Linked DNA regions of Homo sapiens: region 1 is linked to region 2. Evidence: fine-mapped expression QTL. A gene starts in region 2. The other region holds a variant in brackets. All regions are shown on one strand. Distances are from middle to middle.

What was found.
Region 1: its variant is fine-mapped to the expression of EEIG2 in nasal epithelium (TOPMed, PIP above 0.99).

Annotation. Positions count from the first base shown.
Region 1 is chr1:108,527,066-108,542,196 of GRCh38, forward strand. No RefSeq gene overlaps it. Among named protein-coding and RNA genes, the nearest start is that of EEIG2, 25 kb to the right of the region's middle. RefSeq lists a cis regulatory region at 6,560-7,135 and an enhancer at 9,802-10,096. The variant C/T (reference allele first, on the strand shown) is at 6,639.
Region 2 is chr1:108,554,393-108,569,523 of GRCh38, forward strand. EEIG2 (EEIG family member 2) reads left to right here and starts at 5,708. Exons shown (of 11, transcript NM_001010883.3): 1 at 5,708-6,173. The coding sequence starts at 6,037. RefSeq lists silencers at 5,369-5,908, 14,433-14,648 and enhancers at 6,299-6,398, 6,862-6,911.

The DNA.
Region 1 (15,131 bases), 27 kb before region 2:
GACAACTAAAGATCACAAGAAAGAAAACAAGCAACATAAAAAAGAAAGACCAAGATAAACAGTATTCATCCTAAGAAAAGAGCAGAGATTATCTATGGAATAGAAAAAATTACATTTTTAATTACTGTTCTCAGAGACATTTGAAAAGACACTGCTTCCATGAAACTACGACTGGATACTCCTACACCCTGCCCTGACTTCACACACACAAACCAAAATAAAAATCCAAAAGAAGAAAGAGTTCTGGGAAATTAAGCATATAATTGCTGACATTTTAAAAATCGAAGGGTTGAAAGACAGCCTAGACCCTCTCCTGGAACATAAAGCAAAAGATGAAAAGAGAGGAAATGTCAGAAGAAAGACGAAACAGAATAAATCCAGAAGATCCTATATCCAGCAAATAGAAGTTCCAAAAAGAAAAAAAACAAGGAATGAAATATCTTTTAAAGCTTTAGTATGTATGTGAGTACACACACACACACACACACTCTCTCTCTCTATATATATATATATGTATATATGTCTCATCGAGAGTTAAAGAAAGATGTAACTATTCCTAGTGAAGGGTGTAAATGAGTACTAGGCAAAATGAATGAAAAAAGATCAACTAGACATCACATTATGAAATTCTGGAAGATTAAATATTAAGAGATTTTTAAGTTAATTAATTTCTTTACTGTGGTAAGAACACATAAGACCTACCTTCTGAAAAAAATTTAAGTTTACAGTACTATTAACTGTAAACACAATGCTATACAGCAGATCTCTAGAACTTAATCATCTTGCATAACTGAAGCTTTATATCCACTGGGCAGCCCTCTCTATTTCCCCTCCCTCAGCCCCTGGCAGCCACCATTCTACTCTCTGCCATAGAAATGAACAACTAGCTTATTTCACTTAGCGTAATGTCCTCCAGATTCATCCATGTTGTCACAAATGACTGGATTTCCTTTTTTATGACTGAATAATATTCCATTTTATGTATATAGCAAAGTTTCTTGATCCATTTATCTATCAATGGACATGTAGATTGTTTCCACATCTAGGCTATTGGGAATAGTGTTGCAATGAACATGGGAAGACTCTAGAGAGGAAGAGAAAAAAGATCACCTACCAAGGAACAATAATACACCAGCATCAAGCTGCTGCTTCTTTTCGTTTTTTCCTCCAAGACACAGTCTTGCTCACCTTAGCCTCCTGCGTAGCTGGGACTACAAGCATGAGCCACAACACCCAGCTAAGTTTTGGCATTTTTTGTAAAGACAGGATTTTGCCATGTTGCCCAGGCTGGTCATGAACTCCTGGGCTCAAGCGATCCTTTCACCTCAGTCTTCCAAAGTGCTGGGATTACAGGCTTGAGCCACCGTGCCCGGCCCAAGCTTATTAGTAATACTCCATGCTAAAGACAGCAGAACAATTCCTTCACAGTTCTGAAGGGAAAAAATGTTTGAATATAGAATGTTGTACTCCACCTAACTATAAATCAATGTGAAGGCATACTAAAGACATTTTCAGATTTTCAATTACTCAGAAATTTCATCTCCCGTCTGTTTTTTCTGACGAAGATACTTTTGGAGATATTCCAGAGAAGTGAAGTGCAAACCAACAGAGGAAGATATGGAATACAAGAAAGAGTAGAACTCACTCAGGAGTATAATGAAAAATCATTTCAGAGTGACAGCTGTGCATAGGGTTTACAAAACAATCTAAATCAGGAGAGGGAGTCAGTGGGTCCCAAGTATAACATTAATACTATCTTCAGGAAGAAAAATGAAATGTAGTTTACACAAAACATAGAATGACCATGAAAATAGATGATATCAGTGACATGGTGAAGAAAACATATGTTTCTTCTCTCAGCAAGATAAAAGAAAGATAATTGGAAATTCCAGGAAAAAAAAAAACGACAAGAATTATATAGAAAAGTCAAGATACAAATATGAAGCCAGCTAAAATGTAGCACAATTTTCAGCAATTTCTGTAACTATGAAAGAGAATTTATTTAATTTAGACTCTAAAATATCCTTCTTCAAAGAGCCCAGAGGTCATGGTCTTGGACCTATAGAAAAGGAAATGTAATTTTTGCATATTATTTGCCTATGCAATGAATATTAATTAAATAGTCATAATAACATAAATTGGGGGGTTATGTTGATATTTAACTCCCAGAATCAAACTGTAAGCAACAGTTTATAAAAGATGGGTTACAATAAAGAAAGAATTTGGCATTAACTCTGAAAACATAAAAACAAAAGTCTAGGCCAGACCCGATGGCTCACGCCTGGAATGCCAACACTTTGGGAGGCCAGGGTGGGTGGATCATTTGAACTCAGGAGTTCAAGACCAGCCTGGGAAACATGGTGAAATCTCATCTCTACAAAAAATACAAAAATTAGCCTGGCATGATGGAACTTGCCTATAGTCCCAGCTATTTGGGAAGCTGAGGCAGGAGGATTGCTTGAGCCCAGAAGGTGGAGGTTGCAGTAAGCCAAGATCACGCCACTGCACTCCAGCCTGGGTAACAGAGCAAGACCCTGTTTCAGGAGAAAAAAATAATAATAATATTCTTGACAGAATATTATGGTAGGTGGAAGGGTAGAAGGTGGAAGAAAGGAGAAAAGGGCCAATAGTCTCATCAGCATATCTCCAGAATGTGACCTCTTCTCACCAACTCCACGAGTATCTCCTGGTCAGCACTACCAGCATCTCTGTCTTGACGACTGTAAAAGCCTCCCGACTACTCCCCTGCCTCCCCCTATGCCTTCCTACAGTTCTCAACATGGAAGCTATACATATCCACAAGTCAGACCGTGTCACTCTGCTCAAAACCTTGCAATGGCTTCTCATTGTACCCAACGTAAAAGCAAAAATTCTTTATATTGATCCACATAGCCCTATATCATCTCACCCTGTTATCTCTCTGACCTCATCCTCCACCACGCTGCCCTTTGCTCACTCCATTCTAGCCCTACTAGCCACCTGTAATCCTTGAATGTGCCAGGCACACTCCTTCCTTGCAGCCTTTGCTGTTGCCTCTGCCTGGAACTCTCTTCCCTAAAATGCTTACATGAATAACATCCTCCCTGCCTTTATGTCTGCTCAAACATCATCTCTCAATGAAGTTAAATCTGACCATCCGATTTAAAATCATTATTCCCACTTTCCAGATTCCTGAACTATCTTTTCCTGTCTTACTTTTTTTAATTTTGAATGTATCAATGTCTACTATATAATTTCTGTATCTGAACACCCCATCAATGTCTACTATATAATTTCTGTATCTGAACACCCCTACCCCCAACTACCATGTAAGTGCCAATGAGCCTGAGAGCTCTGTTTTGTTCACTGAGCACTTAGAACAGTGCCTGTCGCCATACTAAGTATCCAATAAATAATCATGATTATATAAATATAGCCTGGGAGTCAAGAGGTATTATATATGGCTGATGGGACAAAAACTAGAGGTTTAAGTGTTTTATTTAAAGGTATAAAAGCAACCAAGAATAAAACTATAATAATAGCTATCAAAAACTGGGAGAGGGTAGCTAAATCCTTGTTTTTATTATAGAGAATAAGTACAATACATAGAAATAAAGTCTTGAAAGATACACACCAAATTACTTTCAGTTGTAACTTTGCAGGAGGCAGTTTAAAGGAATAAAGGGATAAAAATCAGTGATTAAAAATTTTAATCTTGGTCAGGCACGGTGGCTCATACCTATAATCCCAGCACTTTGGGAGGCAGAAGTGGGAGGATCGCTTGAGCCCAGGAGTTCGAGACCAGCCTGGGCAACATAGTGAGACCCTGTCTCTACAAAAAATGAAAAAATTAGCCAGGCACGGGGGCACATGCCTGTAGTCCCAGCTACCCAAGGGGCCGAGGTGGAAGGATCCACTGAGCTTGGAAGGTCAAGGCTATAGTGAGCCATGGTCACACTACTGCACTCCAGCCTAGGCAACAGAGTAAAACCCGTCTCAAAAATATGTAATTTTTTTTATCAAAAAAGGGAGGCGGTTTTCCTCTGGAAAGTGGGACTGGGAAGTGTGGCAGACAGCTGTTGTTTTTCAGTATAAACTCCTCAGCACTACCTTATTTTTACTATGTATACAATTACTTTGATGAAAATTAAAAGACAATAAATTTTATTTCTTTTTTTTGCTAATCAGCTGACTTTAGAAAATACATTTTTAAGGAAGCAAAGGAATAAGCAGTTCCAGGTTCACTCTAGTACATAAACAAATATCCAATAGATTCCCCAAAGTACCATACTTCATGACTGAGATGATGTTGGCCTTGGAAATTTTCAAAGTGGATGTTACAAGCTGATCACTATGGCTGTAAAAATAAAAGGAGATATAACAACATTAAACATTTGGTTTTAGGTACTTTAACTTCCTGATATGTACCTGTATGGATTTCAAATTTTTCCTCTATTATCTAAGATAGTCACTGTTTGAAAGCCAAGGCCTCCTCTCCCATCCGTTATCTGCTAGGGGATTAGTATAGCATTTTAACATTTGATCTTATTTTCTCCCTTCTGGATCATGTGGATTGGCTTCGCCACCGTATGAGTTTGCCAAAAGCGAGAGTAACATGCCAAACCAAACATCTGTCACTAAACTGCAGGAGATTTATTATTTTTACCTAAAAGAATACTTGCTACATCAAGAATACTGTAGTCATTAAGCCAGATGAGGCCCTAGGCCAGGTGGATGGTGTGACCATGGACACCAAGGTCTCAGAGAACACCCTGCTCTTCCCACTCACAGAGCCCTGAAGGACCCAGCCTCTCCTAGTGGAGTGCTGTCAAGAAAGACAACTAAAAGGAAAGTTCTGATGAGGGGATATGCAAGTCTACAAAGAGTTACTCGAGTCACTTTTATAGTTTCTACAAAATTTAAAGACTGAGAATAAAAAAGGCCCTCAGCCACTTGTTCATTGGTCAGCCCTAGCATCTAACATAAATGCTCTTCCACAACCCCTAGCAAGGCAGGAGGGGGTAATAAAGACAGCTTTTGGCAAGACCTCAGGAGAAAGAGAAATTTTGATTCTCAACACTGTATCCCAGGAGGGTAGGGAAGAAAATAGAAAATTAATACCAAAGGACAGTGTTTCTATATCTCCACAGCATATCTTTAGGATGGGAATCAGGCTGTTACCTTAGTTTCAAAGATCAACTTCCAATAGCAAAGGTAAGGTGACAAGCCATTCAAGGTATTTAAAACATAAGCACTAAAATTTTATCCATGCATTTATGTGTGTGCTTTTGAAAAAAAAGGCCTGTCACTATATTGCAGTCCCCACTGGATAAATATATTTTTTACTAAGTTTATTAGACATATAACAATTTTAGAAGACATCTGTCAAAGACAGTAACTTTAGTTTTAGAACTGTTAATATTATGCCATTTATTTTCTAACAGTGTTTATTATGCAAGGACTGATTGCCTGTTGAGGTCATTCTTGGTTCTCAAAACGAAAACCATATTATTATATAATTACCCAGACTCCCCCTGCACCATTATCTAAAAGAGTGGGACAAAGGATCGGAAGGTGACCTAGCAAAACAAGTACTTTGTTTTAGAGCCTTTACACTTCAGAAAAATCACTCCCGTGATGCTCAGAGCTTTCAATGCTATTAAATCACAGTTTTCTGGCCAGGCACAGTGGCTCATGCCCGTAATTCCAACACTTTGGGAGGCCAAGGCAGGAGGATGGCTTGAGGCCAGAAGTTCAAGACCAGCCTGGGCAACATAGTGAGAACCCATCTCTACAATTAAAAAAATGCAAAAATTAGCCGGACATGTGCACACACCGGTAGTCGCAGCTACTCTAGAGGCTGAAGTGGCAGGATCACTTGAGCCAAAGAGCTCAAGGCTGCAGTGAACTATGATTGCATCACTGCACTCCAGCCCAGACAACAGTGAGACCCTGTCTCTAAAAAATAAAATAAAATGCATACTTTTTGAAGCATCAGTAACCAGGAATCTCTATTAAGCTTGTATACCATTCTTGTCCTGCTCAAACTCAGTCATCTCAATTCCAACCAGATGTCCAAACCAGAACCCTGGGAGCGATTCTTGTCCTCTCCCTCTGCCTCAGTCTCCATATCCAATCATCCCCCACAAAGCCCTGTTGAATATCATTCTAAAATACATCATGAGCTTTTTCACGCTCTCTGGTTAAAGGTAGTCCAAGTCAACACTGTCTTACATTGGGGCTGCTACAATCAGAATTTTTTAAATAAAAATAGTAGCAAACACCTTATAATCCTTACTATGGGTCAGGTACCCCTCTAAGTGCTTTAAATGCATTAGCTGATTTATTCTTCTCAATAACCCTATAAAGCATTCTAGCACCACTTGAAGATGAAGAAACTGATGCACAGAGAAGTTAACTGACTTTCCCAATATCACACAGCTAGGAAGTGGAGGAGCCAGCTGTCCCCTCCTCACTGACCCTTTGCACTCACACCTGCCATCCTCCGGTCTGATTTCCACACAGCAACCAGTGTGATTGTTTAAACAAGTAACTTTTATACAGAACCAGAAACCTTGAAGTGAGAACAGAAAACAACTTTATTCTTTTCTTCCCAACAGCCTGATCAAACCGGCTCTGCAGGACAGGTTCTTTCCTGG[C/T]GCCTGGGGCAAGTCCCTTGACTTTTTTTTGGTGCTGTCAGTTAATACGAATTCTCTCTTTCAGTCGCAAAATGGTCTCATTTCAATAATAAAAATGCCCAGTTCAGCGTGTTGGTTGAAACACTGAATTTCATTACAGTTAATGCTTCCTCCCCACCACCCACCCAAACCCCAAACCTGCTAGGGCTGGCGGCCTTTGTGGTGGGGCTGGCTCCTCTCTCCTGGCCTCCTCCTCTTCATTGTCTCAGCCGCTTCAGCCAGCCAAGGTTGGAGGGGCCAGGAAAGAGAGATAAGAAACAGAAAAGATCTTGTGTGACAGACACAGGCGTAATCTACCATTGACAGACTCTGGCCGTGGCAGGTGTTTAAAGCTGACTCTTACTCTCAGGACTTTTTTTTTTTTTTTTTTTTTTTTTGAAACGGAGTCTCGCTTTGTCGCCCAGGCTGGAGTGCGGTGGCGCATCAGCTCACCGCAAGCTCCGCCTCCTGGGTTCACGCCATTCTCCTGCCTCAGCCTCCCGAGTAGCTGGGACTACAGGCGCCCGTCACCACGCCCGGCTAATTTTTTTGTATTTTTTAGTAGAGACGGGGTTTCACCGTGTTAGCCAGGATGGTCTCGATCTCCTCACCCTAGATAGTCCTCTGTAAGTTCCGCTGATTGGAGCTCATTGAAATAGGCAAAGCCTCGACCTTAGCTGGATGCTTACATACCCACTCCAGCCCCACGTTCAGCTTCTGAATCTGAAGACACGTCTCCAGCCTCTGTCTGCTAAGGTTGTCTGGTGTGGACAGAAGTTCTCTTAAGCATGATCCCCTTTTAAATGACCGCACGTATATATTCCTCCCAAGGATTTCATACCTTGGAGCTGCCAATGCAAACTGTCAATACTAGTTAACTTTCCAAATGCAGTTCCTTACTTTGATGACAGTAAGCTATTTACCAGGTATTTCTGTGACCCATGGACTCCAGAGGCTACAGGTCAAACCTTCCATGTGGTCTCCTTGGAGCACCCCTCACTAGCACACCTGAGGCAAGGTAAAAATACCTGTCCTACCAATCTCTCATGGGGTTGTAGGGAAGACATGATGCATTGGAGATTCTTTCAATGGGAATTTCCAAAACTCAACTATCTCCTTGGCCTTTTCAATTTTAGTTCCTATATAGCCTTAAGATAGGCAGAGGGGTGAAGATCCACAGAAGTGGTTTCAGCACCTCTTTCATAATTCTGCCATAGATGATCTCACTCACTGCACTTTGAAATGTGGGGGTAATTAGGCCCTCAGCTGCAGTGAATCAGGAAGAGTCCCATTTTAACACTCTGTTAGAAATACCACATCATGCCTTTCCATCGCTATTAGCATTAAATACTAAAAAACACTAATCATACTATGTCCTTCCACTGCTATTGCGATTAAACGCTAACTCTTTACCACATTCTATGGAGCACTGCATGATATGGGCCTTGCCTACCTGTCTAGCCTTGTTTCATAACTCTCTTTTCAGGTTCAGCTGCATTGGTCTTCTTGCAGGTCCTTGGATTCTCTAAGCTCTTTCCTACCTCAGGACCTTCATACATGCCTAGGAGATTCTTCCTCCTACCACTCTTGTCCTCATTTGTTAGGTCTCAGCTTAAATATTATCTCATAGCAAAGGATTTTCCTGAAGTATTATAGCTCTCTGCCCCCAGCCAACTATTCTCATTCATATATATTATTTAACTTTACAGCATTTACCACAAATTGTAAATGTGTGATTGTGTATTTTCTTTTTTTTTTTCTTTTTTTTTTTTTAATTGATCATTCTTGGGTGTTTCTCGCAGAGGGGGATTTGGCAGGGTCACAGGACAATAGTGGAGGGAAGGTCAGCAGATAAACATGTGAACAGAGGTCTCTGGTTTTCCTAGGCAGAGGACCCTGCGGCCTTCCGCAGTGTTTGTGTCCCTGGGTACTTGAGATTAGGGAGTGGTGATGACTTTTAACGAGCATGCTGCCTTCAAGCATCTGTTTAACAAAGCACATCTTGCACCGCCCTTAATCCATTTAACCCTGAGTGGACACAGCACATGTTTCAGAGAGCACAGGGTTGGGGGCAAGGTCACAGATCAACAGGATCCCAAGGAAGAAGAATTTTTCTTAGTACAGCACAAAAGGAAAAGTCTCCCATGTCTACCTCTTTCTACACAGACACGACAACCATCCAATTTCTCAATCTTTTCCCCACTTTTCCCCCCTTTCTATTCTACAAAACCGCCATTGTCATCCTGGCCCGTTCTCAATGAGCTGTTGGGTACACCTCCCAGCCGGGGTGGCAGCCGGGCAGAGGGGCTCCTCACTTCCCAGTAGGGGCGGCCGGGCAGAAGCACCCCTCACCTCCCGGACGGGGCGGCTGGCCGGGCGGGTGGCTGACCCCCCCACCTCTCTCCCTGACGGGGCGGCTGGCCGGGCGGGGGCTGACCCCCACCTCCCTCCCGGACAGGGTGGCTGCCAGGCGGAGACGCTCCTCACTTCCCAGACGGGGTGGCTGCCGGGCGGAGGGGCTCCTCACTTCTCAGACGGGGCGGCCTGGCAGAGACGCTCCTCACATCCCAGACGGGGCAGCAGGGCAGAGGCGCTCCCCACATCTCAGACGATGGGCGGCCAGGCAGAGACGCTCCTCACTTCCTAGATGGGATGGTGGCCAGGCAGAGACGCTCCTCACTTCCCAGATAGGGTGGCGGCCGGGCAGAGGCTGCAATCTCGGCACTTTGGGAGGCCAAGGCAGGCGGCTGGGAGGTGGAGGTTGTAGTGAGCCAAGATCACGCCACTGCACTCCAGCCTGGGCACCATTGAGCACTGAGTGAACGACACTCTGTCTGCAATCCTGGCACCTCGGGAAGCCGAGGCTGGCGGATCACTTGTGGTTAGGAGCTGGAGACCAGCCCGGCCAACACAGCGAAACCCCGTCTCCACCAAAAAAATACGAAAACCAGTCAGGCGTGGTGGCGCGCGCCTGCAGTCGCAGGCACTCGGCAGGCTGAGGCAGGAGAACCAGGCAGGGGGGTTGCAGTGAGCGGAGATGGCAGCAGTACAGTCCAGCTTCAGCTCTGCATCAGAGGGAGACCGTGGAAAGAGAGGGAGAGGAGGGAGAGGAGGGAGAGGAGGGAGAGGAGGGAGAGGAGGGAGACGGGAGAGGGAGAGGGAGAGGGAGAGGGAGAGGGAGAGGAGGGAGAGGAGGGAGAGGAGGGAGAGAGCGTGATTGTGTATTTTCAAGTTTATGGCCATATGGCCAGAAACTGGTTAATGATTTACTAAATTATTTCTGTTTTCCTACTGGACATACAGTTGAACTACATATCCCAGCCTCCCTTGCAGTTAGGTACAGCCATATGACTGTTGTAGTCAATGGAATGTAGGTAGAAAAAGAACACACTTCCAGGCCTGGCCTGTAAAATCTTGCCACATCTGATCCCCTATTCTTTTTTTCCATTCACCGCCTTAATAGAGAAGATTTCAAAGACCCAGAAAAGCATACAATCACAAGAGGAAAGTGATCTGAGTTAGTGCTTAGAGGAGAGAGTCCAGTATAGTCAAGATATCAGCAGCAGCCTCACTGGACTATTGCTTGAGCAAAAAACAAATTTTTATTAGGTTAAGTCATTGAATTTTCTCTTATAGAAGTATTCCAGCAAGTAAATTGAAGAAAGAATGACAGAATTAGATTACCACTATATTAAACCCTAATGAATTCATGAATCTAGACAATGATCATCAATGGCTATTATTTGTGATGGGAAGAAGAAGAAGAAGAATATTCACAGAATATTAAATATATTTCATTGCATCCTGGGCTCTCTTTTCTTTCTTTTGTTTTTCAATTTTTATTTTAGATTCCAGGGTACACATGCAGGTTTGTTAGAAAGGCATATTGCATGATGCTGGGGTTTGGAGTATGATTAAACCCACCACCCAGGAAGTGAGCATAGAACCCAATAGGTATTTTTTCAACCTTTGCCCCCCTTCCTTCCCACTCTTGTATTTCCAAGTGTCTATTGTTCTCCTCCTTATGTCCATGTGTACCCCATGTTTAGCTCCCACTTATAAGTGAGAACATGTGTTATTTGATTTTCTGTTTCTTCATTACTTCAGCTGCATCCATGTTGCTGCAAAGAACATGGTTTCATTCTTTTTTATGGCTGTACAGTAATCCATGGTATATAAGCATTAATACCACATTTTCTTTATCCAATCCACTGTTGATGGGCACCTGGGCGGGGTCCATGTCTTTGCTATTGTGAATAGTGCTGCAATGAACATACAGGTGCATGTGTCTTTTTAGTAGAATGATTTATTTTCCTTTGGGTATAAACTCAGTAATGTCATTGCTTGGTTGAATAGTAGTTCAATTCTTATTTCTTTGAGAAATCTCCAAACTGCTCTCCCCAGAGGCTGAACAAATTTGCATTCCCAGCAACAATGTGTAAGCATTTCCTTTTCTCCACAGCCCCACCAACATCTGTTATTTTTTGGCATTTTAACAAAACCCATTCTGACAAGTGTGAGATGGTATCTCATTGTGGATTTGATTTGCATTTCTCTGATGATTAGTGATGAGCATTTTTTCATGTTCGTTGGCTGCTTGTATATCTTTTTTTAAGAAGTGTCTTTTCATGTCCTTTGCCCATTTTTAATAGGGTTATTTGTTTTTTGCTTGTTGATTTAAGTTCCTTATAGATTCTGCATATTAGACTTTTGTCAGATACATAGCTTGCAAATATTTCCTGCCATTCTCTAGGTCATCTATTTACTCCATTGATAGTTTCTCTTGCTATTCAGAAGCTCCTCAGTTTAATTAGGTCCCACTTGTCAATTTTAGCTTTTATTGCAATTGCTTTTGAGGACTTAGTCATAAATTCTTTGCCAAGGCTGATGTTGAGAAGGATATTTCCTAGGCTTTCTTCTGTTATAGTTTCAGGTCTTACATTTAAGTCTTTAATCCATCTTGAGTTAATCTTTGTATATGGTAAGAGATAGGGGTCCAGATTCACTCTTCTGCATATGGACAGCCAGTTATCCAGACACCATTTATTGAATAGAGTCCTTTTCCCACTGCTTACTAGCGGTAGATGTGTGGCTTTATTTTTGGGTTCTCTATTCTGTTCCTTCCATTGGTGATTTTCTATTTTTGTACCAGCATCATGCTTTTTTTGGTTACCATAGCCTTGCAGTACAGTTTGAAGTCAGGTAATGTGATGTCTCTGACTTTGTTCTTTTTGCTTAGGATGCTTTGGCTATGTGAGCTTTTTTGGTTCCATACAAATTTTAGAATAGTCTTTTCTATTTCTGTGAAAAATGAAGTTAGTAGTTTGATAGGAATAGTGGGCTCTTTTTTCTATTTATATTCACCTCCAGATGATCACATTTGGTCCCAGCCTTTTCATACATCTAGCCATTGACAACTTCCACATTTTTATCTCCAGAGCTATTAATTCCAGTGAAGTTCTGGATTTCTATATTCAACTGCCTCCTCAAAGTCTCTACTTGGCTGTCTAAAAATTTCTCAAGTTTAACATGTACACAACAGAACTCTTTACTTCTCTCCAAAAACCTCCTCCCACAGTCTTCCACATGTGAGCAGATGAATCTAAGCCACCATCATATCTCATCCAGTGATAGCTGATGTCCATATAATGAGTTCTTCACACAACATCTAGGGTGCATGAACTTTTCAAAATTCAAATCAGATAATGCCACTTCCCTGTTTGAAACCTTTGTACAGCTTTCTGATACACTCAAAAAAATTCAAACATTTTTTCATGGCCTCCTCCTTCTTGGCTGCTCTGACTTCATTTTCTACCACACTTTCCAATGCACACGCTTCTCAAATCTTCTTATTGTTCCTTGAAAGAAGCAAGCTCATTCCTGCCTCAGGGCCTTTGTATTTGCTATTCCCCTGCTTGGAACTCGGTTCTACCATCTACTTATGGCTTTGTCCTGCACTTCATTCAGACATCCTTAAGAAGGCTTGTCCAATCTATCAAAAATAGCACCTTGCATCCTCCCACTGTCCCTGCCCATACTCTTACTCTATTTTATTTTTTTCTTTGAAGTTATTACTATTTGATATTACGTATTTGCTCACTTGCCAGAATGGAAGCTTCATGAATGCAGGAATTTTGTTTGCCTTGTCCATTGCTGTTTCTTCAGTGCATAGAAGAGTCATTACCAATGAGTGGGAACTCAATACGTATTTGTTAAATAAACAAATTGATTAATGGATTATTGTTGTGGGAAGTCAGGGACCCCAAACTGAGGGACTGGCTGAAGCCATGGCAGAAGAATGTGGATTGTGAAGATTTCATGGACATTTATTAGTTCCCCAAATTAATACTTTTATAATTTCTTATGCCTCTCTTTACTGCAATCTCTAAACACAAATTGTAAAGATTTCATGGACATTTATCACTTCCCCAGTCAATACCCTTGTGATTTCCTATGCCTGTCTTTACTTTAATCTCTTAATCCTGTCAGCTGAGAAGAATGTATGTCGCCTCAGGACCCTGTAATAATTGCATTAACTACACAAATTGTACAGCATGTGTGTTTCAACAATATGAAATCTGGGCACCTTGAAAAAAGAACAGGATAACAGCAATTGTTCAGGGAATAAGAGAGATAACCTTAAACTCTGACCGCTGGTGAGCCGGGCGGAACAGAGCCATATTTCTCTTCTTTCAAAAGCAAATGGGAGAAATATCGCTGAATTCTTTTTCTCAGCAAGGAACATCCCTGGGAAAGAGAATACGCGCCTAGGGGTATAGGCCTATAAACGGCCCCCCAGGTGTGGTCGTCTTTTATGGTCTGTAGACTGTAGGGGTGAAATAGACCCCAGTCTCCCATAGTGCTCCCAGGCTTATTAGGAAGAGGAAATTCCCGCCTAATAATTTTGGTCAGACCGGTTGCTCTCAAAACCCTATCTCCTGATAAGATGTTATCAATGACAATGGTGCCCAAAACTTCATTAGCAATTTTAATTTCGCCCCGGTCCTGTGGTCCTGTGATCTCGCCCTGCCTCCACTTGCCTTGTGATATTCTATTACCTTGTAAAGTATTTGTTGTCTGTGACCCACACCTATTCACACACTCCCTCTCCTTTTGAAAATCCCTAATAAAAACTTGCTGGTTTTGTGGCTTTTGGGGCATCACGGAACCTACCGACATGTGATGTCTCCCCCAGACGCCCAGCTTTAAAATTTCTCTCTTTTGTACTCTGTCCCTTTATTTCTCAAGCTGGCCAATTCTTAAGGAAAATAGAAAAGAACCTATGTGACTATTGGGGCAGGTTCCCCGATAGATTATAAACAAGTGACCATAAAACCTTCCAAGTTTGACTCAATCACAGTTATGAGCCACATTTAGGAAACCCTGACATACAAGCATTCTGTCATTTATTGACTGGGTAAACTTGAGAGAGATGCCTGATCTCCCTGTGCCTCAGTTTTTTCATCTGTATAATGGAGGAATAATGTCATCTGTTTCATAAGAGTGCAAGGCTTAAATAAATGAATAATGAAGTTCTTAGACTAGAACAATGCATAGTATAATACATAGTAGGTACTCAATAAATGTTTGCTGACATTATTATTATTACAGAATTCCAGATTTTCAGTGTTTAAATTAAGAAAATAGAGGAAAGGGCCATTTTTCACATTAAAGGAATTTTTAAAGTCATAAACAATAAATATGTATTGGGATTTACAAAGCAGGCCTTAACTGCATGAGAGGTAAGAAGTAGCAGAGAAACTTAGAATGAAAGTATTAAAAATCGCTTCCAATTACAAATCACTATGAAATAAAAATAATTATGAAAATATGAGGTAGTCATTCAGATTTGATTAACAACCAAAATAAATCAGTTTATATACAACTTTTCAGGAATACACCTACAGGGTAAATTAAAAGACATCTGAACTCTTCAATACTTAACGTCACCATAATCGGCAAAGACAGATGGAGCCCTTTCCTCCTGCCCTTGCCCCCTCTATTCCACATAACCATTATATCCCTCTCTTACTAACAACTTCTATCTTGAAGGCAGCAACATGATTCATGCTATAGCCCAGGCTTATCATATTAGGGCAAGACCAATATACTTAGCCTGAAAACAGGGTTCCACAAATGAAGGTGCTTGATTAGCTAAGCTACATGTTAAGAAATCACTTCTGCACTAAAAGTAAAGCCAAAAATTGAAGCCAAACCTGAATAATTTTGATAACACTTGCTTTTAAGTAAGTTGTTTCTGCATTTATCTCAGCTTCATTTCCTACACGTCACTGAGGGGAATTTTTCCTCTTTTTATCATCCACAATTATTGTTCTGGCATTTTGTTGTTGTGTTGGTTTGTCTGTTCATTTGCTTTCTTGCTTTGCTTGCATCCTGACGGATTAAAACCATCAGGGTGAGATTCTGCTACAATCTTCTTCAGCCAAACTTACTTGCCAAGTATGTAGCAGTCTT
Region 2 (15,131 bases):
TCAAAGTGCAGGATTTCCATGTAATGCACAGAATTCTCAGTCAGATCTGAATATAATTCCACATCGTCCTGTAACCCAGTTATTCTCAACTAAGAATGATTTTGTCCCCCAGGAGATATTAGGCAATGTCTGAAGACATTTTTGATTAACACAACTGGGAGTGAGGGGGATGATACTGGCAACTGATGGGTAGGGGCCAGGGAGGCTGCTAAACCTCGTACAATATACAGGACAGCCCCACTGTAAAGAATTGTCCAGTCTAACATTTCAATTAGAGCTGTGGCTTATGAACTAATAAAATATCTTCCCTCACTCACACACAATGTATAATGATAGAACAAATATAGTAAATACTTCCAGGTAGGAAAGGGGGAAAAGTGGGACCCTGGCCCATCACAAAAATGAAATTTTGCAGGGAGGCATTGTGATGGCTCTGAGCTGGCAGTGGGAGCTGTTTCTCAGCTACACCCTGTTTCCATTATCTGTGAGGAATCTGCTTATCTGTTGTCCTCTGTGGTCCCTGGCTCTGCCCTCTGGAAATTTTTCCTCTAAGCCCACATTTAAAATGAGTGTCGAGGAACGTGACTTTCTTGAGGAGAGTACAACTTTTAACGCAGGCTCATGATTTCTTTAGCAATACAGTAGTTCAAAAACTGAAAAGTATTTGATCTTTTTGCTTCCAGTCAGTTCCATATGCCAGAAACACTGAGGTTTCCTAGAGATAATTCTCAATCCTGATTATCTCTTTGCTTCTTCACTCCTCTCTTCCTCTCAATTTAAGGAGGCTACTTTGAGAACATCAGACTTAAATGTGAAGACCACACCCTAAATATAATCTTTGTTTCACGGCTGAGTCTTAATGGGCCCTTGTTGCTCAAGAGCTTTTTCAATCTTATTTCCTATTCTTTGAGGTATAGAGCAGTTAGTTTTTCCCATCCCTTGAGGCTCCAAATTTCTGGACTCTCTATATTCCTTTTAATTTATGCTTGCAAACCTGCTAATTATTGCATGAGTTCATCTTATGTTTCCAATATCTTACTGAATGCAGCCATAAATATAACCTACTAACATTCCATTTTTCAACCTCTTATAGAACTATGGGTTTCATAGATATCTTACTTTCTTACCAAATTATTGTAGGTATAAGATTGATGGGAAAGCTTCCCCTCTGCCTTCTGAAGCTTTGCTGAAATGACTGACAATAGACAGATTAACAGGAGAAAAGGCATACAAATTTATCAGTGCACATGGACAGAGTAGTCCTGCGAATATGAGACTCAAAGAAAGACCAGAGGGTTGAGACTTAAATATCCTTTTTGTAGGGGAGAGGTAAAGGGGGAGTGTACGCATTTTTAAGGGGTAGTAAATGCTTTTCAAGGGAATTGAATAAACCTGTAAGAATTGTCACACCTCTGGCAGTAAGCAGTCTTAGCACATGTCTATTCACTCTGTTGTTTTACCTGAGAGTTAACACACTTAGGATAGGTCTATAAATTCAGGTCATTTCAAGAAACATGTATTGAATACCCACTAGGTACTGGGCTATTTAGAAAAGATACAAAGATGATCAGCAAACCATCCCTGCCTTTAAGAAACTTGAATTATAAGTACTGGAGTAGATACTTAGCCTCAACATTCATTCCACCATCCTATCTGAAGAAGTTGGAAAGCTGAAAATTACATTTCTCAGACTCCTTTGCCACTCAATTTTTGGGTGCAAATAAGGCCTGCCAAATAAATTTCCTTATGAAAACACAGGTGCAAGTGAAATGGAGGCTCTCTTCTTACTGCTGTGTCACTTGCAAGCAAGGTGTGATGACATGCCTGTGGCATTCAGACTCCTCATAGTCTTGACAGGTGTGAGCCAGTGGTGGTGGCAGCAGCAGTAGCAGTGTTCTAGTGTCAGCTTCCCATCCCAGCTGCAGTGTATGTTAGTCAGAATAAACTAGACTTATGCTGTAGTGACAAGCATCCCCCAAAATCTCAGTGGCTTCATATAATAAAAGTTGCTTTCTCACAGACAAAATGTTTCCTGCAGGTGTGGGCAGTTGCTCTCCATGTGCTGACTTAAGAAATCTGGGCTGCTTCAATCTTGTGGCTGCTACATCTTAACCCAAGGTCTCCTCTATAACTATTGTGGCAGGGAAGAGGTAGTCTAGAGAACTGCTCAAAGGCTTTTCACTGTTTCATCCTGGAAGTGACGTGTTACTTCTCACATTTTATTGGCTAGACCTCATCACAAGGCCCCACTAACCGCAAGGGAATTGGGAACTGTAAACTCCCATATGCTCAGAAATCAAGGAGGACCGGATACTAGTGAACACTAGTAATGTTTACCACAAAGCATGTGACTTTGAATTCGACAGTCTGCTGACCTCAACCCCTTCAGCCCTTCCACAGATTTCAGAAGCAGTGAAGTGCCTGAATGAAATCCCTTTTTTTTTTTTTTTTTGAAACATCCAGAGTGGTTTCAGCTTCCTATGGTGAACCCTGACTGTATCCTTTGTGTGCTAGTGGCTTTCCATCCCCTTACCTCCAACCATTCTCTACCTTTCAGTGCCCTACTTTGTGCCCCAGGAGTCTGTCCTGTATGAACTGCATGTTCCGAGCCCCTCTACCCTCTGGCCTTGGTTGGTTTTGGATCATGGGAAGCACCACCAAGAGATCAGAAAGTAGGAGGTGAGAGAAATCAGGATATTTATCCCTTCTTCCTTTCAACTTCTCACCAGACTGTGGGTCCCTTACCCTGTCAACTCTGTGAAGAGTCCTTTCATTAAATTTTCCCCATTTAAACACATTGAATATGATATCTGTTTCCTGCCTTGACTATGACTCCTATCAGGGGTTTAATAATCAAACCATGAGTCTAAAAAACAGTAACAGACTGTCTCCTATCTTCCATTTTATAAAGTAGAAGAGCTTTACAAAATGTAAATCTGAATATATCATGCTTCTTCTTTAAAACTTCAATGGCTCTTTGTTAACCCCTGTCACTGTACCCAACTCTAAGTTGCAGCCAGACAGAACTAATTTCAGTTCCCTCTGCAACATGGTCTCTCTTCCTTTGAGCCTCTGCACAGACACTACCTCCTTCCTGGAAACTGCTCCCCACCCATGCTCATTATTCAGGCCTCAGCTTAAAGGCCTGAATTCAGGCTTCACTTACCCTAGAAGGCATTCCATAAACCTACTACTTATCCCTGTTAGCTTTTATAGTCTCCCACAGCAGTCTCCACTCACCATCATACACAGACAGCACTCAGTGTTACATTGTACTGCAACTGCCTGCTTACTTCTCTGTGTCCTCCAGTAGACCGTGAGATCTAAGACAGGGACGGCATTTCAAATCCATAGGACCTATTAAGGTGCTTGGCACCTAATAGACACTCAATAAATATTGGATAGTTCCTGAATGTTATTGAAAAAGATTGAACTGTCCTCCTCTGGTCACCATTCTCTCTCTCTTTTCATTCGCTGACAAAAAAATCAGAAAAACATCAATAAAAATATAATTTTTATTTACCCACATTACTTTGTCACTATCTTACTTTTCACTGTCATCTTTTCACTTACTTTGTCACTTTTCATCTTACTTTGTCACTATCTTTTATGATGACTTCTCTTGCCAAGATTACCAATGACCTCCTAGACCTTCAATTCAGTAGCTTCTTTTCAGTCCAAATCCTCTGGGACTGCTCTGCAGCACTCTCTTGAAATGGTCCTCTGTCCTACATGGATCACAGATTGCTCTCTCTCTTTCTTTCTCTCTCTCTTCTCTCTCTCACACACACATACTCACATACCACACACACACACTTTAGTTGATCTGTTTGCATATCTCTGTTTTTCTCCATTCCTTTATAAGCCCCTATGTCTTATTCATTTGCATCTCTAGTACCCAGCATAGTGCCTGGCACACAATAGAACTTTGTAACTACGAATGTTACATGATTAAAACCGTCTGGGCTTCCAGGCCATCTCTTTCTTCATCTCCTTTTTCTCTTGACTGCTTGTTCTTAGGCACCTTCACGATCTCCTCTTTGCCTACCCTTTAAATATTCTTCAGAGTAACTCATCCTTATCCACCTTTTGGGCTTCAGCCATCAGCGATTACCTCAATTCCCAAATGTATATTTTCAATTGCCAATGCATTTTTATGAGCTAAGGCTGCCTCTCTCTCCCTAGATGTACTGCAAGCAGATCCCATAAAGACTCATTATCTCTTCCATTCCCAACCTGCCCTCCTCTTGCTTTCAATGTTCAGTCAATGAAATTAACATTCATCCAGTGCTCTAAATGACAAATCTCAAAGTCCCCAAATGCATCTCACTGTCTTTGCCCCCTGTCCTGCAGGGTAAGAAGCTTTATCCATTACCAAATCCCCACCCCCGAACCTGCCTCTGAATCTTTTTTTTTTTTTAATTTATTTCTCCTAGAACAACTTACCCCACTTTGTCCCAAATCATTTTCATCCTTTGAAATTCAGAAAACTGATTAACTTCAATTAATTGCTTCTCTGAGTTCTACATAGCTTGGTGCTAGGTTGTGTTTTTTTAATGACCTGTCTAAACATGTCTTCCTCACTAGATTGTAAAATTCTTGAGGGCAGTTATTGGCTTTTGGTTATGGGGTCTAGCCGATGATTGACATTTTAAGCAATTTTTTTATATGAATGAATGAGTAAACGAGTAAACTGAGAAAGAAAATATTTTCAATTAAACCCTTTCAGAATTACTGTGGCAGAATCTGAGTGAAAATGACAATAACTCAGTTTAAAAACATGAACATCACGTAACCAACTTTGTAACATTCATTGTAACAATACATGCATGATTACAGAAGGCAGGTAATTGTTATTCCCCTAGGGAGATTTTTTTTTAAGCCTGCTCTGAAGATTTTGTTTTGTTTTTAAGACAGGGGCTTGTTCTGTTGCCCAGGCTAGAGTGCAGTGGCGCGATCTCCGATCATTGCAAGCTCCGCTTCCCCGGCTCAGGCTAACCTCCCTCCTCAGCCTCCCGAGTAGCTGGGATTACAGCGTAGCCATGCCAGACTGCCTGCAGAATTTGATTTTAAGCATTTCAGTTCTCAGTATAGACAGACAAATTTTTAAAGGGAGGGTATTATTTTAACTGCTTCTTTGCTCTTTTATCTTTTGTCCTGGGTGACAGGAACTAGATAAGCTATACCCCAGAGAAAGCGCCTGCAGCAGTACGGTGCCTGGGCCCTTGATAGTCCCTCAGCACATCATTTTCCTTTTTCCTACCTTATCTTCCTTTTATATTTGAAGGCTCGTGAATTTAGAGTACCTAACGGAAATTTTAGTTTTAGGATTTCAATTTGACCAAAACAACGCTGAGATTTTAATTGCCTCTATTAACCCATGGCTCTCAAACCCAAAGGAAAGAAACCACTGGAGGGGGTGGGGGAGAAAGGAGGCGGTGCAAAAACTGAAAAGAAAGGCGGAGAGGAAGCGGTAGAAGGAAGCTTTCTCTGTCGGGTTTGTCTTTTTTTAACCCCAGAAAGGCGTGACGTGCTAACTGCCGTCGCGGGTTAGAGTCCGCGGCCAAGCCCGCGCCCGCCCACAAAGTCCCCGCCCTCCCTCCGGCTTCCGCCCCGCCGTGCGCTGCAGGCCGCGGCCGCTGGGGGCGCCCCCGACCCCCGAGGCGCTGAGGCGGCGGTTCCTCGAGCCTCGCCTCTCCCGACTCCCAGACGGGCGGCAGCGGCGGCGGAGGCGGCGGCGGCGGCGGCGGCGAGCTGAGCACCAAAAGGGCGCTCACCTCCCCGGGCGAGCTGCAGCACGACCGCTCCCCGCGGGCGGTCGGGGTCCGCGCCGCAGCTGCCGCCGCGTTCCGGCCCAGGCTGCCGCGAGAGGCGGCGGCAGCGGCCCCGGCCGCGGCCGGCCTGCGGCGCCCCCCGGCCGCGCCCCCGCGCACAGCTCGCGGCCCCGGCCATGGGGCTGGGCTGATCCGGGGCTCGGCCAAGCTGAGGCGGCGGCGCCCGGCCGTGCGCCCAGCTTGCAGGCGCCTGGCTCTCACGATGATGAAGAAGAAGAAGTTTAAGTTTAAGGTGGACTTCGAGCTCGAGGAGCTCTCCTCAGTGCCCTTCGTCAATGGGGTCCTCTTCTGCAAGATGCGGCTGCTGGACGGCGGCAGCTTCACCGCCGAGTCCTCCAGGTAACTCGCCTCCCGCGCCGCCTCGCCCCTTTCTGCTTGGCCAGGGCTTGTTGGATGGGCAGCATCTCTCCTTGGCCCATTTGCTCGCCTTTCCCTAGGGACCGCTCTAAAATCAGTCGAATTTATTGATCTGCAAAGTGCTTTGCAAATGGGTTCTTCTCAGCTGGCCTTGGTTCCTGCGCTCCTGACTCCAGATGGTGCCTGGTATCTGCTCTTCCCTCCCAAATCCTCTAGGAATGGGAGCAATGGCCAGAGAGGGAGGATGCTTCTGTTTTCTCTTAAGACATTTCCATATTTGTGAAATGCAAAGTAGAACTTGAGCTGTTAAAAACTAAAATAACCCAAACTGCAGGAGTTCCAAGAGCCCAGCTCTGAACAGAAACCTGTGCTTAGCACAATTCCTTCTCCCTTGTAGATTACAAGGGGACTTGGCCACCCACTCTGAGGCTGGGGTAGGCCTGGCCAGGCTTGACTTGAGTCAAGTGCTCCTGGCAGACGAGACAACGGTCTGTGCCTCATCAGAGAGCGGCGTCTCCAGTTAGGCGCTAATGCTGGATGAATTAGTCTTGAAGTGGCCACTAGTAGGTCTCCTTGTGGGAGGGCTTAGAGCCAGATGGGGAGCCCAGGCCCTGCCCTCATTTTAAAATGAGCCCCTGGGCACTCCCAGAGAGAGGCATTAGCAGGTTACAGAATGAAGCTATTAAATAATAGGTGTGGCATTAATAATAGGTGTGGCAGTGTTTCTTGAGTAATTTCAGAGCTACTCACAGGTTGACAGATGTACCCTAAGGTGCTTTCTTTAAAATATATACATAGAGAGAGAAAACAATTTTTTAAATGAACTTTTGAGTTCCTGAGATCAAGAAGGGTTAAAAGTTAATGTTATTTTGCCCATATATACTGGTCTTAGGCTTTATTTCTGCCCTAAAAATATTCTACTTAAAAAAAATTCCGTCATCCCATTTATAGTATAAAGGAAATAATGTCACTGGATTGTGGAATTGGGGCTAGAAACTTGTCTTTGGGGCAATATTGAAGCCTATGGAAGCCAGAAAATGTCTAGTTGGCTAAACCAAAGGATATATGAAATTAATAGTTTGCCGAAGACAGTTTTTAAAATTAAACTGTGGTGACACATCAGTGGATATTCAGCTAAGTATTTTAAACACCTGTAAGAGAAGAATGTAACCTATTTTGGTGCAAAAAAAATATTGGACCATCTCTTACTTGTTGAAAAGCCTAAGCCGATTCGTGAAGGTCCTGTTGGTGCAGGTGACAGTCTTGCCCTGAGGCCTAGACTGTTTTGCTGCAGGGTGCCACCCCCGACGCCAGGCAGTTAGACTGGCGCTCCTGGGCCAGTGGTGACACCTGGTGGTCAGGGCACTTGTCTACGGGGCTTCCTTCCTACCTCAGTTATGTTTATTTGGCTTACTTCCCACAAGTCACTTATTCTTTCGTTGTAGGCAGTCATTTATTCAGCAAATATGTGTTGGCTTCTAAATATATTATCTTATTTAATTCTCATAGCAAGTCTATAAGGTAGGGGTTCCATTTCGTAGATAAATAAACTGAGGCTCAGAAAGCATAACTAACTTTCCTAAGGTCCCCTCAGCTGGTAAGTGCGATGCCAAGATTCTGATCAGGTCTGTGTAACTTCAAACAGGGTGGTGCCAGATAAAGGAATAAATCGTGTGCCATATATGAAAGTTTCTGAATAGGGAGCTTCCTAATGACTTTAATGAGCAAGGGGTATACTCCGCAAGACTTAGAAATGAAAAAGTTGAGTATCTTGGGTTAAACTCACCCCTTTTTCTTCCAATTAAAATTTGACTTTGATCAATTTGATTTTAAGTAAGATTAGGAATAGTGCTCTGTGTAGCCAAACCAAAAAGCCATATAGTATGGGGGAAATGACTCACAATAAGGAGCCTGTGCCTTTGACATTAGGTAGAGATAGTTGGTGTAAAGCTAAGAGCAAGGATTTGGAATGCGGTGAGTCTAAGCCTAAACCCCAGTTCCACTGTGGTAAACCTGGATGGGTTACTTAGAGTCCCAAAACTTCTGTATGTAAAATAGAAACCATCACTGACATGTGGTGGTGTGAGGATTTAGTGAGATGATGTGCCCAAAACACCTAAACAGTGCCTTAGCACCCAGTTGGCATTTAAAGAGGAGACCAGGAACTTGTCCAAGAAGGTCCATTTGCTTGAGATGTTATATTTGATTCCTTTATCCTAACAACTACAAAATTGTTGGTTTGAGAAAGAGACCTCATTTTACAAGAAAAAAAAAAAAGAAAATCTGAAATATCTAAAGGAAGTGAATTATTTCAAAATCACAGAACTTTTAATTAGTGGGTGCCAGTCAAGGCAGTGCATCTCTAATTGAACGCTAGATTTTAACTTCTAAAAAATTGCTGTATGTGCCCCTTAAAAGTCAGGTGTAGTTAACACTGTAACATTTCTCCTGTAAAAATATGAAATGAATTACATAGAAAAGAGGTAATATAGCAGGCCCAAGACTGCTATTCTTAGAAAGGCCTATGTACAAGGCTGGCCCTTGGCTGGCATCTGGGAGCTTGAATGGTAAATGGTTCCATACATGATACAAAACTTTACGTAAATGATAAGAGTGGCTCACTGTGCCTAGACTGTACGGAGTGGTTTATGCTAAATTCCATCTGGAATTTTGGTTCTTGCTAGGCAGCCTACGTGACCAGCCCTAATACAAATTTTGGGCATTGAGTCTCTAATGAGTTTCCCTGGTAGACAGCACATCACAATTTAATTCTAGAGAAGTTAAGTGTGTGCTGATTCGACTTTGTATCTTTTCATTGTAATAAACCTTAGCCATGAGTAGGACTGTATGCTGAGTCCTGTGAGTCCTAATGAATCACCAAACTTAGGATTGGTCTTGGAGACTCCCTGATGGATGAACCTTTATAAAATAATACTCATCTTGCTACAGAAAAGCCTTAGAGGCACACAGAAAATTGCATATATAGATATAAATAGAGAGACCCAAATATATATAGGTCATATGTATTTGATATATATATTAATATATTTGGCTTTGTACAACAACTAAACATGCAGATCATTTATTCTTGGCCAAGTATTAGTTGAGCATTTACCAGGTTTCTATTAATAGCTCTCCATCTGGGATTGTGAGAAGTACAACAAATATAAGGATCCACAAGGGAATTACTTCTAATGAAATTAGATCATAGATGTATAATTGCTTGACAGTAGAAGACAGTGTGACTTAGTGCCCAATCAATGGATCAGACAATATATTGAGTGTTGTTGAAATTCTAAAGCAAAAGAGTTAATTTACAACTGTAATGGTTACTGACAACCACATTGGCATTTCTGTGGAGCACTCTGGGAGGATGAGTTTGCATTGACAAAGTGAGGATGGGAGGACAGCTTGAGCAAGTCATCAATAGGAGTTGATAATAGATCAGCCTGATTGCAGAGCGTTCATGTTGAATGGAAGCAGAAGATAAGATTAGAGAAAGACTTTGAATACTGTTGTAAAGAGTTTCTTTCTACTCTCTTTCTATAAATGAGAGTTGCTTTCTACTGCTCATAGGGTAAAATTAAACCTAAGATTCTTGAACTGAGTTGTTGTGTGGTTAAAGTGGCGTATCACCTGGCTGACAGGCTGATGCTATCTGTATTCAAGGTTGGGTGGGGGGGAAATTAGAGATGGGGAGACAAATTAGGAGGCTATTAAAATAACCCAGGCAGGAGCTAATGAGAACCTGAACTCCGAGGTGTCTCATGTAAGTGACTGATAAATGATAATCTTATGACAGATGCCTTGACGCCACCACAGAAGTAAAGAAGTCAGGAAAATTATTTGTTTTGTTTAAGGGGAATATTGCATATGGTGGTGGAAGATATAGTGGGTTAAGTTGTATGCTTAGCATGCTACATTTGAGGTGACAGCCTGATGAGTAGTGGGAGGCATTTATGCGGTATGTGGATTTCTTAGATGTTGTCTATTGGAGCCATATAGGCCTGCTTACTAAACTTATTTAGAATTTCCTTACATTGTTTTTACCCTTTTAAAGATTATTAGTGAAAAAAGGCCAGGCATAGTGGCTCATGCCTGTAAATCCCAGCACTTTGGGAGGCCGAGACACGCGGATTGGTTGAGCTCAGGAGTTTGAGACCAGCCTGGGCAACATGGCAAAACCCCATTTCTACAAAAAACATACCAAAAAATTAGCTAGATGTGGTGGTGGGCACCTGTAATGCCAGCTACTCAGGAGGCTGAGGTAGGAGGATCGCTTGAACCCGGGAGGCAGAGGTTGCAGTGAGCTGAGATCACCACCACTGCACTCCAGCCTGGGCAACAGAGTAAGACTCTGTCTCAAAAATAAATAAATAAAAATAAAGATTATTAGTGAAAATTAATTTTAGAAGCCAGTTTTTCTTGGTATTGTTTTCAATGAAGAGATTGGAAAAATATAAAGACTAAAAGGTAATTATTTGTAATAAATATTATTAAAATGGTCAGGGTAAATTGTCAGATTTTTACATGCCATAGTTAATAAAATATTTGGAAAATACATTGTACGATTATGGTGGTCTATTCAACTGAGGCTAAATTGTTGTCTAATAAAATACAGTCATGTATCAGTTAACAATGAGGATCTGTTCTGAGGAGTGCATCCTTAGGCGATTTCATCATTGTGCAAAAGTCATAGAGTGTACTTACACAAACCTAGATGGTATAGCCTACTACGTGCTTAGACTATGTCGTATAGCCTGTTGCTCTGACCACATCGTGTATTTGGTCTGTTGTTGACCAAAATGTCCTCATGCAGTACATGACTGTATTTCTGAAGATGTTTCAAAAGGACAGTATTATTGTATTTAAATCTTTTCACCGTACTTCCTTTGCAAAAGCATTTAAATCACTTTTAAGGTTTATTAAAACTGGCATGGCAGGTTTAATTCTGGCCTACTTAAACAAAGGAATAATAGGAAGAAATTTTTTCTATATCTTTTAGAATTCCCTAGTTTGCCTTATTTTGTTCATCTTTTTTTTTGTGCTGATAGCCAAATAGTTTTCTAAGTTTCACATGAGGCTGTGGCAGAAACACATGTGAATTTGGGGAGTGTCTGGGAAGCTGATGAGCACATCTATGTATTGGACCTTTTACTCTAAACAAGCGGAAAGGATTTCTTTCTTTTGGCCAGAGTACATCCTTCTGTTTTCAAGATTTTAGTTCACTGCACATTGTGTATTTCTTTTTAGTAAACATTTCTTTATTGAAAAAGTAATACAGATTCATATGGACAACTTAGAAAATAGAAAGGCAGAAAGAAAGGAACAAAAATTGCCCATAAATGAACCACCCAGGGATAATCACTATTATAAATATTTTAGTATAGAAATTAGGAGCCTTTATTGATCTGTACACATACATGTATGACCACACTCCCCCACACAACTATCACATACCCTTTTTAAGCCAAAATGAGATTATACTATACTTAGTATGGTTTTTTACTTCATGTATCTTTTCATATCATTAAATATTCAATTACAAGATTATTTTAATGGTGCATATTATTCTATTGTATGAGTTTCCATGACTTATTGAACCAAGTCACTTTTGAAAGGCTTTCTCCTTTCCTTTCTTTTTTGTTAATAGTTTTATAAATAAACTACAATAAACATCCTTATAACCAAGCTTGGTATACATCCATTATTATTTATTTAGGATTAACACTTAGAAATGGAATTATAGAGTCACAGGGCATGCAGATTTTTAAGGGTTTTGATATATATTACCAACTTGCCCTTCAGTGCATTAAATTGATTTTTTAAGATTAGTAATCACTAATAAGCAGCAAATTATCAAAAGTTACTAGTAGTAGAAAGTACTGTCTGACCATATGGCACAGAATTATTTATACACTAGATCCAGCAACCCCACTTCTGGGTATACATTCGAAGGAATTGAAATCAGTATGTTGAAGAGAATTCTGTACTCTTATTGTCTTTGCAGCATTATTTACAATAGCCAAGTTATTGAAACAACCTAAGTGTCTGTAAACAGATGAATGGATAAAGAAGATGTGGTATATACAATGGAAATTATTCGGCCTTTTAAAAAAAAAAAAGGAAATCCTGTCATTTGTGACAACATGGATGAACCTGGAGGACTTTTGTTTAAAATGAAATAAGCCAGGCACAGAAAGGCAAATACTGCATCATCTCACATATATGTGGGATATAAAAAAGGTGAACTCATAGTGGGTGAGGGCACGGAGAGATGGGGAACTGTTGGTCATAGGGCACAAAGTTTCAATTAGGTGGCATGGATATGTTCAGATCTGTTGTACAGAATGCTGACTATAGTTAATAATAATGTATTATACTTGAAAATTGCTAAGAGAATAGATCATAAGTGTTCTCCAACAGCAAAAAAAATAAATATGTGAGTTGATGGCTATGTTAATTGGCTTGGTTTAGCAATTTCACAATATATACACATATCAAAACATTACATAGTACACAGTAAGTATATACAATTTTTGTCAACTATATTTTAATATAGTTAAGTAATTAAAATAAAAAATTTTTTAATTAAAAAATTCCTTATACCCTGACCAGAAATGGAGTCATCAATTCACATTATTATAATACCTGTAATAATAGTAGCTGACATTTATTTGAGCACTTTCCCAGTGCGTCAGGAACTTTTCTAAGCCTTTACATTTAATCTTCAAGATATTCCCGTGAGGAAGGTGCTATTATTACGTCATTACCATTATTAGTGCCCTTGCCATTATTGCTGCTATTACTCTCATTTTATACCTGGGGAAACAGAAGCACAAAGAGATGCTAAAAGTTACTCAGCTAGTAAGTGGTAGAGCTAGGAGGCATTCTAGCTCCAAGGACCACTGTTAATCACTAAATTCTACTGCCTTTCAGGCTTTGTGTTGTATGCTTTCTCATTTTTATGTTTTATAAAAATGGTAGGTAAATATATGTAGTATAACTTTTTCTGAATGTCAGTTTCAGAAAACTGGTTCCAATATGTGACATCACTAAACAGGTTACAAGACCTGGCCCCTTTAGATTTTCCCTGAGGCAATTGTATATGAAAGATAAGTAAAATGCAGCGAGGCATTTTTATGGGCTCATGCCTGTAATCCCAGCACTTTGGAAGACTGAAGCAGGAGGGTGGCTTGAGCCCAGAAATTCAAGAACAGCCTGGGCAACATAGTGAGACCCTGTCTTTGAAGAAAATTTAAAAATTAGCTGGGTTTCGTGGCATGCACCTGTGTTCCCAGCTACTCAGGGAGACTGAGGTGGGAGAATCTCTTGAGCTTGGGAGATTGAAGCTGCAATGAGCCATGATTACACCACTGCACTCCAGCATGGGTGATGGAGCAGGACTCTGTCTCAAAAAAAAAGAAAAGAAAACAAAAGAAAAGAAAAATGGTACTCATGCCACTTTTTTTTTCAAGATGTGGCTTTGTACAACTAAGTTCACAAAATTTAGTCACATTATTGGATAGTCATATCTTATAAAAATAGTATTAATGCCATTTTACACCAGTAAGTTAATATTCACCACTGTATCACTGAGCCTTACATAGCCAGCATTTTGTAAATATTGAAAGAAAGCAAATATTGGGAGAAAAGATCTGTTGTAGTTTTGCTAAAGATGACACACATACAGAGATCACTAAATTAAATATATGGGGAAGTAGATCATGTTTTATCTACACAGCTTGTAAAAAATTATGTTCGGTTTGGGGTGCAGGCCTTTGAGGGTTATCAAATGGAGGTCCAAGGAAGATATTCGGATTCTTAAGAATCTTGAATTATGCTAATAACAGGAGACTGGGGTTAGTCTTGAGAGAAGATAATGGTCTTCAAATACTAAAAAATTGACTTGTATATATGTATATTTTACATTCCTAATTTTATTTGATTCTTACAAAACCCCTTTAATAGAAGTAGGAAACCATTGTCACCTGTTTTTGATTTAGAATGGATGTCAGGTGCTATAACAAGGTATTTTTAAAAAATAACTGGCTTAACCAAGATAGAAGTTTACTTCTCTTTCATATGAAGTCCAACCTAGTGTGGTAGCTGTGCTCTGTCCAGTTGTCAGGGGCCTGGACTCTTTTTGTCTTATTGCTCTCAGGGTATTGTTCTCATCCACAGGGACTGACTTGGCTCACCCCACATCCGAATTCCAGCCACTGGGAAGGAGGAGAGGGGAAGGGAAGGTCCCTTGTGCTCACAGTCCATTGACCAGAACATCAGCACCATGCCACATCCAGCCCCAAGGTTGAGAAATTTAGTTTTTGCTGGGTGCCTGTATGCCTAACGAAACACTGAATTAGAATAAAGGGAGGAGAGGACAGATATCAGGATAATTAGCCTCTGTCATACCACTCTTTTAGACATGAGAAAGTTGATCCTTAGAAAATAATTTGTTCAAAGTCACATATCAACTAATGAAAGATATTTGAAAAATTGTGCCATAAAGAAGGAATAGACTATGCTGGGTGCAGCTGAGGACAGAACTAGGACCAGTGGGGAGATGTTAAAGAAGGCATGTTTCTATTCAGTATAACATTAAAACAAATAAGTTCTAACATTTAGGAGAGTAAAATAGTGAGTAGACTACCTCAGTACTACTAACAGTTGAATGACCTCATCCATTTGTCAGGAATGTTATTCCTCGTTAGGAGGATGGGTCATCTAGATGATGATGCTGATTATTCTTTTTAGAGGCAGTTACTCTGTTGCCCAGGCTAGACAGGCTTGAGTGCAGTGGCACGATGATAGCTCATTGCAGCCTTGAATTCCTGTGCTCAAGCAATCCTCTCTCCTCAGCCTCCCAAGTAGCTGGGGCTACAGGTGTGTGCCACATGAACATGCTAAATTTTCTATTTTTGTAGAGATGTGGTCTTG